Homo sapiens: one gene and its partners. The protein of the gene in region 2 interacts with the protein of the main gene of each other region in a pairwise test. Each region holds a gene or a part of one and is shown on either strand. Other genes may lie near its edges.

Region 1 (3,500 bases), on a different chromosome or scaffold from region 2:
TGCCATCTATTCATGCAACAAATGTTAATTGCAACCCTAATAATTCCTCTCATGTTAAACTACTCAAGTAACACTTGGATACTTGGGTGAAAAATGCAAATAAGCCAGAAATATATGTAGTAAAAGTAAAAGTTCCCTTGGCACCCTCCCTGCAGGTAACCCCAGTTAATAGTTTGAACGTATCCTTCCAGACTTTTTGTTACTCACTTAATGCATATATATATATATATATATATATATATATATATATGTATGTATGTATGTATATTACATATACCAATCCATGCATAGTTTTCTTTTTCCCCAAGTGAGGACATACTGTGGGCTCTTCCTCGGCAGCTTCCTTTTTCCTCTCCGTTTGTCTTGGAGAGGTTGGTTGTGTGGCGAAGTCCTTCAGGGCAAGTTCTGGGTTGACTCCTGGCTCCACCACATACTGAACAGGCCATTTACCTCTCTGTGCCTCAGTGTCCCCATCTTTACAATCAGGAGAATAACAGTACAGACCTCACGGTACTGAAGTAAAGATGCAGTGAGTTAATCCATATGAAGTTTAGAGCAGTGCTTTTGCCAATAAATGCTGATTGCTGCCGTCATTGTTGTATTGTTATTGCTGTTCTATCTCCATGGCAGCCCATGTTTGAAATGCATTGCTTTCCACAGCTGCCTGTGGCCATGGCATGGGTGTCTTTTTCCTCCCCTATCCAACGTGTGGCTCCACAGGGAGGGAGGAGGTGCAACAGCAACGGTGTGCGCAGAGCAGCGTCTCTGCGGGAGAGGCACCTGGGCACTGGGCCCAAGGGAACAGGGATTTTCCAAGGACCCACTGTTTCCAAAGTTCTGTGCTTAATGTCGGGGTCCAAGCAGGAAGCATCCCTGCACTTGACCACAAGAAGGTCACAGCCCAGTGGGTGATTGGGACCCAGCTCATAGCCAAGGCCTCGACCAGAGCTGGAGGCTTCCTGGAGGAGGGGCCTTTGAGCAGGTGCTTCAGGCACGGCGAGGTAAGAGTGAGAGGAGCATTCCTGGCAGAGGGAACACAGTGAGCAGAGCGAGTCTTTGGAAGCTGGAAGGGATGTGGCCTGTGTGCTGTAGCCAAACAAGAGGGGAGGACTTGGCTCAGAAAGAATGGTGGCGGAAGAGGTTGGGCTGTTGCTGGGACCTCCTCACTGGCCTCCCTGCCTCCATCCTGTCCCCTCCCAGGTGCTGGCCAGCAGCACTGTCAGAGCGATCGTTCTAAACCCAGCAGATAACCTCCAGTGGCTCCTGCTGCCTTATGAATAAAGGTCCCATCTGTAGTTCTTCCCATGCTGTCCAGGGCCATTTCTGGTGTCCTCTGCCTGCCCTGTCCTCATTCAGTCCTGTCCCCTCCAGCCACAGCTGGCACCTCCTTGTTAAGGTGCAGCCATGTGCATCCTTGCCTCTGTGCATCGGGCTGGGCTGTTCCTTCCACCTGGGATGCCCCTCACCTTCCTCCCTGCCGCCCCAGACCAAAACAGACGTCCTGTCTCCTCCTCCTCTGACCTCCGAGGCAGAATGAGTCATCTCCCTTTGTCTATACTCGTGGCATAGCGTTTATCACGGAATTATCGGCAATTCTGCCAGTGTCTGTCCTCCCCATGAGGCTGAAGCATCGAGGCCTGAAAGCACGTCTCCTTGCTCTCTCCGGCCCAGTGCCAAGGGCGAGGCCTAGAACACAGGACGCTCAGAAATGCTTCCTGGCAGGAGGGCCAGGTGAGGTGGAGAGGGTGAGAGCCCCAACATTGTCTCCCGTGGGCCCCTTTGATCTTTAGCAAGGGCATGCTCAGGTCTGTGTGGATCTTGTGCTGTCAGCCTTTAGATGAGTGGGGTGAGGGGCTTGGTGGGGTCGGGGGGCAGGGGGAGGTGGCGGGCAGCTTCCCCAGGCTGCTTCCTGAGGGGGCTGGGAGAAACTGGCTCATCCTGTTCCCCAGTGATTGAGGCAGAGCTGTGCCCTGTTCCTGGTGGGTCACTGGGGATCTGAGATTGGAATGTGACACCAGGGAAGGGGAGGCAGGGTGGGAGGCAGGGCTTGGAGGTACAGGCTGGGGCTTGGCTGGCAAAGGACAGATTTCGCTCCACTGGTTCTTGAACCCGTGTGTGTGTGTGTGTGTGTGTGTGTGTGTGTGTGTGTGTGCACGCGCGCGCCGGGGAGGGGAGAGATGGGGAAGAGAAAAACATGAGGGCAGAGAGGTGGAGTGGGGGTGGAGGACCTGGGGAGTGGTGAGCAGGGACAGGGAGAGATGGAAGTGGGGGGACGGCAAGGAGTGAGGGAGAAGTTCCTGCTGCTGCTGCTGGAGAGTATGAAGAGTGTGCTTAGGGCCAGGAAGGAAAGCAGCCAGGCGCATCGTCTCACACCACCATCAGCCATGCCTTCCTTCGTCTGTCCAGCAGACAACCCTAAGTGTTCTCTTGCTTGGCTCCATGCTTGCATGGCCCCAGACAGGAGCAAGCCTGTGGTCCAGGCTTCGCACCCTTGAAGTCTAGGGGCCAGGTGAACAATGAGCATCCGGTTTCTTTCTTTTTTTTGAGATGGAGTCTTGCTCTGTCGCCCAGGCTGGAGTGCAATGGTGCGATCTCAGCTCACTGCAACCTCTGCCTCCCGGGTTCAAGCAATTCTCTGGCTCAGCCTCCCAAGTAGCTGGGATTACAGGCGCCCACCACCACGCCCGGCTAGTTGAGCAACCTCTTTCTGCACAAAGTGATCAGGCTGGGGGAGAGAAGGTGCCCAGAATGCTGTGCAGAGGCAGGAGAGGAGGGTGGAGCAGGCGAGCATGGGGTAGGGGGCAGGGAAGCCATGTGTTAGGCACTATGGTGGGGAGCCAGGACTGCTGGGGAGTCTTCCTTTCCTCTCTGGCCTCGGTCTCATCTGTAAATGGGGGAAGAGTGGACTGCTCTTGCACTGATGGTCTGTGGACCCAAGTCACCCACTCCTTGGGCATGAGAAACCAGGGACCCCGTGGAGACAGCTGATAGAACAGGGACAGCAGGCATGCTCAGAGCGTCTGCAGGCCCATGGTCAGGGGGCTTGAGGGAGAACATGCAGAATCCAGTGGAGCTTGGGTTCGCCTCCTAGAGTTCCCTTCTTGGAGACTGTGCTCATCTGGAAGGCGAGATAGGGTCGGGGTAGGGGAAGGAGCACTGGATTCGGAATCAGGAAAAGTGGTTGAGTTTTAACTGCAGCATCCCTCGGGCAAGTCACTTTCCCTCTGTGAGGGTCAGTTTCCTCTTCTGTCAAAAATGTGAACGGGCTTTGTTGTAAGCATTAAAGGTGAGCTGGGGCGCCGTGGCTCACGCTTGTAATCCCAGCACTTTGGGAGGCCGAGGCAGGCGGATCACTTGAGGTCAGGAGTTTGAGACTAGCCTGACCAACATGGCAAAACCCCATCTCCACTAAAAATACAAAAATTAGCCAGGTGTGGTGGCCCATGCCTGTAATTCCAGCTACTTGGGAGGCTGAGGCACGAGAATCACTTGAACCCAGG
Region 2 (5,292 bases):
TTCTTCAAAGGTTCGTGGATAAAGAAATCATAGACAGTGGGTTTGAACAGCCACTTAAGAGGTCAAAAGCTACTAAAGAAATAATGATGAAAATCAGTTTTGGAAAATCAAAGAAAATTATTTGGAAGATTACATTAGCCCCTGATTTACAAATGCATTTTTCAGAAAGGGAGCCATACTACAATGCTCACGAGATCAAACTAAAACACAGACTTAACTCATGTCTTTACAGGAAACAATTCAAGTAAGGTGATATACACACATTTTCAGAAGGCAAATCCCGGGTGTACTCTGAGAACCAATATATAAAGTATCAGTGTGTTTACATTTTATAGTTTATAAAGTGATTTCATCATTTGATCTTTATAATCTATGAATTTTCAGAGCAAATATTATCTTCTTTGTATGAAAAAACAAACTGAAGCTCAGATATGTTAAATGATTGGCCTAGTCATACAGTTCAAGATCGATCCAGTACTTGAACCCAGATGTCCTAATTTCACACCATATTTATCTATAGCTGTTACCTTAACCCTAAATGTATGCTGGGACTCAAAACGTTCAAACTCAGTAACATAAATCTACTTGCCAATGTCTCTGGAAAATTTATTACTACACTTCAGAGGTGATGCCAAATTTGGTGCTTTAACTTTATAAACGGTAAAACTGTTAACTCTGGGACCACTGCCTATAAACCTTACCTTCACATCAAAGGAAGGCTTGAAGAGTTTGTCCTTGGACAGGAATTTTGATGGTGTATCCAGGTGTAACGAGGGCTCCTTCTGAAGTGGTTGTCCTACTGCTGGGGAGGCTGCGACCTGTCTGGCATGTTGTGAGACCACAGCACGGAAAGCTTTACTCTGAAAGCGGTTCATATCTAAAGGTGTAACGACGGTTTTTCTGTGAGTTTGCAGGCGTGTGCCAGGATGCTCTGCAGTATCTGAATTTAGATTGATTCCATTTGTTATTTCTGTTTCCAAACTTCGTTCTAGAGATTTAAAATGAAAAGAAACAAATATGAGCCACTAATGCCCACTTTTTCCCGGTACACAAGAAGTAATATTTTATACTGTTTTCTTTCCTTTCTTTCTTGCATAACTCCTGGGCTCAAGAGATCCATCTACCTCGGCATCCTAATCTGTTAGTTTTCATGTCAATTCTCAGGTACACTTTAAATCACAAAATTATATACCTACTTTCCAAGAAACAAACCAGATTATGCATTAAATATATGTTGAGTTAGACAAGCACATTAACTGAAAAAATAATAATAGATTTCCTGTTTCATCTTGCTATGTCTCAATAAGCCTATTTGCCAAAAATTGTTATCAGTGAATGTCTTTCTAGTCAATGACAGAGTAAAAAGAAAAATCTCAATTACAGGTACTCAGAGTTAACTACAGTCTAGTTTTGGAAAGTCCTTAATCAAATTTTAATATGACCTGAACATCACTTAGCCTCAGTCATAAAATTACCAGTCTGTCTGGCAAAATAAGTAATGACTCTGAGAGGTATTCCCAAGCTGCTGATATGTCCCTGAAGTTTGCCCATGGATGCTATTATCTTACAAGAGAGGGTACTGTATTCTTCCACCTATGCCTTCCACCTTTTTTCAACATTTAACAAAAAACCTTATTAGATAGCTACTCCATGCCAGGCCTAGTGTTAGACATGGGAAATACAGAATTCACAAGACATGCATGTTCACTGCCTTTCTGGAACTTTAAATTTAGCAGGAAGACACAAAATAAACAACCATTATAACACTGAGGTAAGAGATAAAAGGGATGATACAGAGTGTCATGGTGAAACAAAAAACATTATACCAAGACAAAGGCCATCCTTGGTGAGTCAAGAATGCTTCCCAAGACAGTGTGGCGATTCCTCAAAGATCTAGAACTAGAAATACCATTTGACCCAGCGATCCCATTACTGGGTATATACCCAAAGGATTACAAATCATGCTACTATAAAGACACATGTACACATATGTTTATTGCAGCACTATTCACAATAGCAAAGACTTGGAACCAACCCAAATGTCTATCAATGATAGACTGGATTAAGAAAATGTGGCACATATACACCATGGAATACTATGCAGCCAGAAAAAAGGATGAATTCATGTCCTTTGTCGGGACATGGATGAAGCTGGAAACCATCATTCTGAGGAAACTATCACAAGGACAGAAAACCAAACACCGCATGTTCTCACTCATAGATGGGAATTGAACAGACACAGGGCAGGGAACATCACACACCGGGGCCTGTCGTAGGATGGGGGGATGGGGGAGGGATAGTATTAGGAGAAATACCTAATGTAAATGACGAATTAATGGGTGCAGCAAACCAACATGACACATGTATACATATGTAACAAACCCGCATATTGTGCACATGTACCCCAGAACTTAAAGTGTAATAATAATTAAAAAGAAAAAATGAAAGGCTTCCCAGGGAAAGTGGTATCTTAGCTGAGAACTGAAAGATAAGCAGGAAGAGCAGGCAACTGTGAGGTGGTCTACAGGAAACATGCAGAAGCCCAAAGATAAGAGGAGAGATAGCATGTTAATTATATAGTGTGTTACTATGAGCCATAGAAAGAATCAACAGTAAATAGGAGCCAAGCTTACATCTGTAGACTTCGAACACTGAGACCCTCACTGCACCCAATGTGAAAAGCAAAAATCAATGACCCTTCCTAAACACAAGCATTGGCACATTTATATCCCAGAAACCATCTAGTTGTAAATATATATAAAAGAACAGAATAAAAGTATTAACCTTCTTTAGTTGAATTTTCAATCAGAAAATGGCTTTCGTCTGCTCTCTTTCCCGTTCTAGCAGTCTCCAACAGCCAAGCTATAGTAACGGCAGGTAAATTCCACTTCTTTGCAGCTTCATATTTAGAGCCACCACGTTCTTTCAGTATAAGATGAGTACTGGCAAACATGCCTTTCTTTGCATTGGATTTGCGAACAAAGTATTCTTGAACACTGAAATTTATGTTTAAAGAAGTGGAAATGGTCACATATACAATTAACCCGCAAAACTAACAAAATTTCCAACACAACAGTGTGGTTAGAGATCATGTAAGTATAAAAAAAAATACTGATTAAAAGTTGGTTTACTCTATCTGAAATTAAGCTAATCCCCTTACAAATGCTTACTCTAGGGTAAAAATGTATTGCTGTAACAAACTTTTTATAAAAACATAATTAGACATGCAAAGAACAGACAGCAAAAATCCTTTTGAGACAGGGTCTTGCTATGTTGTCCAGACTGGAGTGCAGTGGCACAATCACAGCTCACTGCAACCTCCGCCTCCCAGGCTCAAGCCATCCTCCCACCTCAGCCTCCCCAGTACCTAAGACTACAGGTGTACACCACCACACCTGGCTAATTTTTGTATTTTTTGTAGAGATGGGGTTTCACAATGTTGCCTAGCCTGGTCTCGAACTCCTGAGCTCAAGTGATCCTCCTGCCTCAGCCTCCTAAAGTTGGGATTACAGGCGTGAACCACCTCACACAGCCAAAATTACCTCCTTAATTAGTTATCACCCCCACACCTTGTCCTTTCCTCCCAAAAGAAGGCACAGAAAAAATGACAGGAGCAAAGTGTATAAATAACATTATTATTATTTTTTAACCTACTACAACTTTCCAAAGCATTTCTACATATTATCTCATTTGATCCTCTCAATATTTAAGTATAGACATGGGAAAAAATACAGAGAAATTAAGTGCCTCAAGATCATAGGATATTAAACACAGAGAATACGGGGCAGAAAAAGAAGTCTACGACTTGAGATTGAACAGAATTCCGTGATTTCTTTTATGACTTCTGGGTTTTATGTTCTAGTTCCCAACTTTTCAGATTTTTAAATTTCCCATGTTTCCTAGCACTTTTTTTTTCTATGTTTTGTGTTTATCTTAGTACTTTTATAATTTCATTTTTTACATTTAACCCACCAATCCATTCAGTACTTATTTAGATATGAGATACTGCTCCAACTTTAATGAATCCTATTTATTGAATAAGCCATGTCTTCCTTATATATATTTGAAATGTCACTTGTATCGTAAATTCCTTTTTACATTTGGGTCTCCTGCTACATTTGCTGTCCATTAATTAAACTTTCTGCTACACGTAACCACACTGTTATTTAGTGAAGTTTCACAAAATATATATTTGTTTGTTTGTTTTCTGAGACAGGGTCTTGCTCTGTCCTCCAGGCTAGAGTACAGTGGCGCCACTGTGACTCACTGCAGCCTTGACCTCCCAGGCTCAAACAATCCTCCCACCTCAGCCTCCCAAATAACTGAGACTACAGATTTATGCTACATTGCCTGGCTCATTTTTAAAATTTTTTGTAAAGACAGGGTCTCAGTATATTGTCCAGGCTGGTGTTGAACTTGGCCTCCTGCCACGGCCTCTCAAAGTGCTAGGATTACAGGCATGAACCACCAGACCTGGCCACAAAATATATTTTAATAACTGTTAGGGCTAGTCCCAATTATTCTATTTCAGAATTTGCATGACTTTCCTGCTGAGTACAGCTTTAGCTGTATCCAGTGGAGTCTGTCATCATGTATGTTATTATCTTCCACAATTTCAGTTTTAAAAGAATTTTATTATTTCATATAATTCAAACAGAAAACAGCAAAAAAAGAAATATACAGCTATACGAATTATTATAAGGTGAAACCCTTAAGTCCACCACCCAGGTCAGAAGACAGAATCTTGCTAACTACCCCAGAACCTCTCCAACATGCCATATAAACCCCCTTCCCTCCCTTCTTAATAGTAGCCACTATTTGGGCTTTTTTTTGGAGACAGGATCTCATTTTGTTGCCCTGGCTGGAGTATAGTTGTGTGATCATAGCTCACTGCAGCCCTGGTCTCCTGGGCTCAAGTAATCCTCCTGCCTTAGCCTCCCGAGTAGCTGGGACCATAGGCACATGCCACCATGCCTGGCTCATTTTTTTTTATTATTTTTTAAATAGAGACGAGGTCTCACTATGTTGTACAGGCTGGTCTTGAACTCCTGAGCTCAAGCAATCTTTTAGCCTCCCGAGTGCTGGGATTACAGGTGTGAGCCACTGTGCTTGGCCTATTTGGATACTTATAGTAATCACTTCTTTACTTTTCTATAATCAAATAATGGCAACTTTAAAGACTACATTTAGGCTTTTGCTTTTTCAAGTCTTTTAGCTTATAGGTTCCTACCTTCTTTTCCATGCCCTTAATATATATTCATTGAAGACACTGGATCATTTATGCCAGAGTTG
Region 3 (3,500 bases), on a different chromosome or scaffold from region 2:
AAAGTGGTGGAACCAAGACACAGATATAAAACTTCTCACCCTAAATCCCGTGCTTTTCTCATTATATCACAGCTAATGAGTAATATAATGAGAGTGTCACATCATGGTAGAAGGACTAAATACTTCATGCCATCAGATGGTAGATTTCTTACTCCTAATCTGGTACTGTGAAAAAATAATTGGTGAAATAGTGACAAAATGGGTAAAAGTCAACATGGATATTAAGAGACTGTACTATTAAGCCTACAGTGCCTCCTTCTCAAAATGCTTAACTACTACATTAAGCAAAAAATAGTTAAAAGTGTTAGTCCTAAAGTTAGCAAGAAGATACAGTGTATTTTTATTGGATTACAAATATACATGAGAATACTCCAAGAGATGCATATTTTATATAAAAACATTCATATCACATCCATCAGTAAATGTCCTTAATTCTTAATTATCTGCGTCCAGTTGGAAAATTTTGTATTTTCTTGTGGCTCTCTCTCCCTTGCTATCTATGAGGGGGCCTGGAAAATAAAAGGGTAGAATGCAAATCTGTCAATGTGGTTGCTTATATTTTTCTTTCAAAAGTCTCCATTGAGAAAGTAAGTTGAAAAATGGTAACAATGTACTTACATAAATGTCTCCTAAATTATCTTTGTTGTCTGACTCTATTAGGAAGAATTATTTGTGTAGCAATTTTAAGTAGGTACAATCCAAACCATGCAGATCTTTTTTGTTTGGTTGTTTGTTTTTCTTTTTTTTTGTCAAAGTCTCACTCTGTGGCCCAGGCTAGAGTGCAGTGGCATGATGGCTCACTGCAAGCTCACTGCAAGCTCCGCCTCCCAGGTTCAAACTATTCTCCAGCCTCCTATAAGTAGCAATATATGCCTCTCCTACTCTCCTGAGTAGCTGAGATTACAGATGCACACCACCACGCCTGGCTAATTTTTGTATTTTCCCTAGAGATGGGGTTTCACCATGCAGATCTTGTAAAGCAGCGGTCTTCAACCTTCTTGACACCAGGGACTGGTTTCATGGAAGACAATCTTTCCACAGACTGGTGGCAGGGGATGGTTTCAGGATGATTCAATGATTCAAGCACATTTATTGTGCACTTTATTTCTATTATTATTATTATATCCTCACCATATTATTATTATATACTCACCATAATGTAGAATTAGTGGGAACCCTGACTGTTTTCCTGCAACTAGACGATCCCATCTGGGGATGATGGGAGACAGTGACAGATCATCAGGCATTCGATTCTCTTAAGGAACACAAAACATAGATCTCCTGCATGCACAGTTCACAATAGGGTTTGCGCTCCTATGAGAATCTAATGCCGTGGCTGATCTGACAGGAGTCAGAGCTCAGGCAGTCATGCTTGCTCGCATGCCCACCACTGCTGTGCAGCCTGGTTCATAACAGGCCACAGACAGGTACCCAGGGACCCCTGCAGTAAAAGACTCTAACCAAGAGCTGCTTCTCTCCCGAAAAGTAACAGTATACGTCAAGAAAGCTGCAGCAATATATTTATTGCAAAGGAACTAGACATTACATTAACCTGATGAAGATGTAACGATGCATGAAGCATAACTGGTGCAACATTTTTTAAAAATCACAAATGAAAAAGAAAATTCATTTTCAAAAGAAAATATTGTATCCAAGTCAGCTTAATCTCTGAACACCATAATATAACTCTTAATGTTGATTCTAAACATCCAGGATAAAGTTTACTTTAAACTGAATAAAAGAAAGAAAAGGTTTCTTTCCGAACTTCCCCAACAGATTCCTTGGCTACCATCGGTGCATCACACCCATAAAGTAATTGTCATCAACAGACCGTAAAAAGAAAAAACCCCTCCTACAAATAGAGAAATTCTCAGGAAATCCAAGCAACAAATCAATTAGTAGCCCCCAATTGAATGGGGCAGACAGAATCAGCATTTTCTAGAACTTAGAAGTTACATTAACTTTATTAATAAGATTTTATTGTCTTTTAAGAAACTGTATGGATTCAAGGGCACACTGAGCTATAACAAGTCATTATATACACACTGGGTAACAGTGCGGAGGGGGTTTCAGATGTTTGTCATCTGTTCATCAAAGCTTTCTGAAACCCCTAGAGCTTTACTATTCTACTCTATAATACATTTTCACTGTGTATAACAAACTCCCTTTGAAGAAAATTACCCCAGATAATCCATCTGTGAAAATACAAGTACTGCAAAAAGCAGTGAGGATAAATACTTTTTGGAAAGGCAAAAATGCTGCATCAACTTTCAGAGGCACTATCATAGAATCATCTCTGAAAAAGAGAACTGCAAATGTACTTTGAAAATTACTTTCCTTGCCTATACCCAGCATGCGTGAATGTCATCTAATGAGCTATTTGTAGGCTGAGGAAGTGAAGAGTTGAAATGCAGAATTGCAGGTTTTAGTTGAGCTGGTAACACTGGTACCACTTTCTTTTTTCCCTTCCAATGGATTTCAACAGTTTGTTCCTAAACATTTCACAGTTCTCAAAACTTTTCACATAAAAGGGGAAGATTATTAAAGCTTATTAGATTCTGTCAATTGGTCAAAAGAAAAAATGTATTTCAACACAGCTTGTCATCTTTGGAAAAAATCAATCATAATTACGTTTCCTTATACTGAATTTAAGGTAGAGAGACCTAAATTACAAGCACTCACAATTTGGTGGGAAAGTGGCAAATCCTTGTCATTTGGTGACTGTGGCACCAAATAAAGAGGAATTCATTCACAACTGAATGAGTTATTCAAATAAAAAAAGCAGAAAGCTAATCTAGACATTTTAGGTCCTAAATTAAATTTTTCAGGTGTGATATTTTTAGTTTGAGTAATAATGCTGGTCTAGTTTGCTAAAAAATTAGCAACATTCTCCTTTACCTTGAGCTGGGTAGACTCAGCCACAATGTCCTACTGTCTCTTTATGTATGTTTAAAGTAATGCCTAACCAGACTCATAATGCATGTAGATGCAACATGCTAGTTGGCACAAAGCAGGCAGGGAGAAATGACCCTACCTTCCCAAAAAACTCACAGGAGCATGACCAGTAATCATTTTCCTCATATAGACAATGTCAGTAGATATCAAGACAGATACACATAAAGTTACATAAATGTTTCCACCTTTTCACCATTGAGTGAAACATGCTGTTCTTTGGAGAAAAAAATACATTCATTTTTTTCAAGTATATTGCAATATACAAAGATGCTCTGGCTTTGTTTCACTATAAAGACAAAAAGATTTCACATATGTCCAAGGGAAATTTCAGTTTACCTTTCCTTTGGTGTGGATTTCATGAAGTTCTGACTAAAAAAATTAATCTAAATATACATCTACTCATTTTATCTGAAAGCATGAACTATGTTCATTTTATATATATATTTATATGTACATAGCAACAACAAAAACCAGTCTACATATGTCCAATGGCTTAGGATTGGCATGCTCTGATGAGCACGAGGTCCACCTGCTGTGACTAGGCG

Evidence for each region. The genes of interacting proteins can lie anywhere in the genome.
Region 1: the proteins of TOPBP1 (region 2) and RAI1 interact in a two-hybrid assay, tested with the Homo sapiens proteins (one study listed by BioGRID).
Region 3: the proteins of TOPBP1 (region 2) and TBC1D4 interact in a two-hybrid assay, tested with the Homo sapiens proteins (one large-scale study listed by IntAct).

What each region holds. Positions count from the first base shown.
Region 1 is NC_000017.11:17,684,458-17,687,957, forward strand, and holds part of RAI1 (retinoic acid-induced protein 1), read left to right. Parts: exon of another isoform or gene 1-1,731; intron 1,732-3,500. UniProt on the Homo sapiens protein: Transcriptional regulator of the circadian clock components: CLOCK, BMAL1, BMAL2, PER1/3, CRY1/2, NR1D1/2 and RORA/C. Positively regulates the transcriptional activity of CLOCK a core component of the circadian clock.
Region 2 is NC_000003.12:133,637,175-133,642,466, forward strand, and holds part of TOPBP1 (DNA topoisomerase 2-binding protein 1), read right to left. Parts: intron 2,997-5,292; coding exon 2,785-2,996; intron 989-2,784; coding exon 702-988; intron 1-701. UniProt on the Homo sapiens protein: Scaffold protein that acts as a key protein-protein adapter in DNA replication and DNA repair. Composed of multiple BRCT domains, which specifically recognize and bind phosphorylated proteins, bringing proteins together into functional combinations.
Region 3 is NC_000013.11:75,283,170-75,286,669, forward strand, and holds the end of TBC1D4 (TBC1 domain family member 4), read right to left. Parts: 3' UTR 334-3,500; downstream 1-333.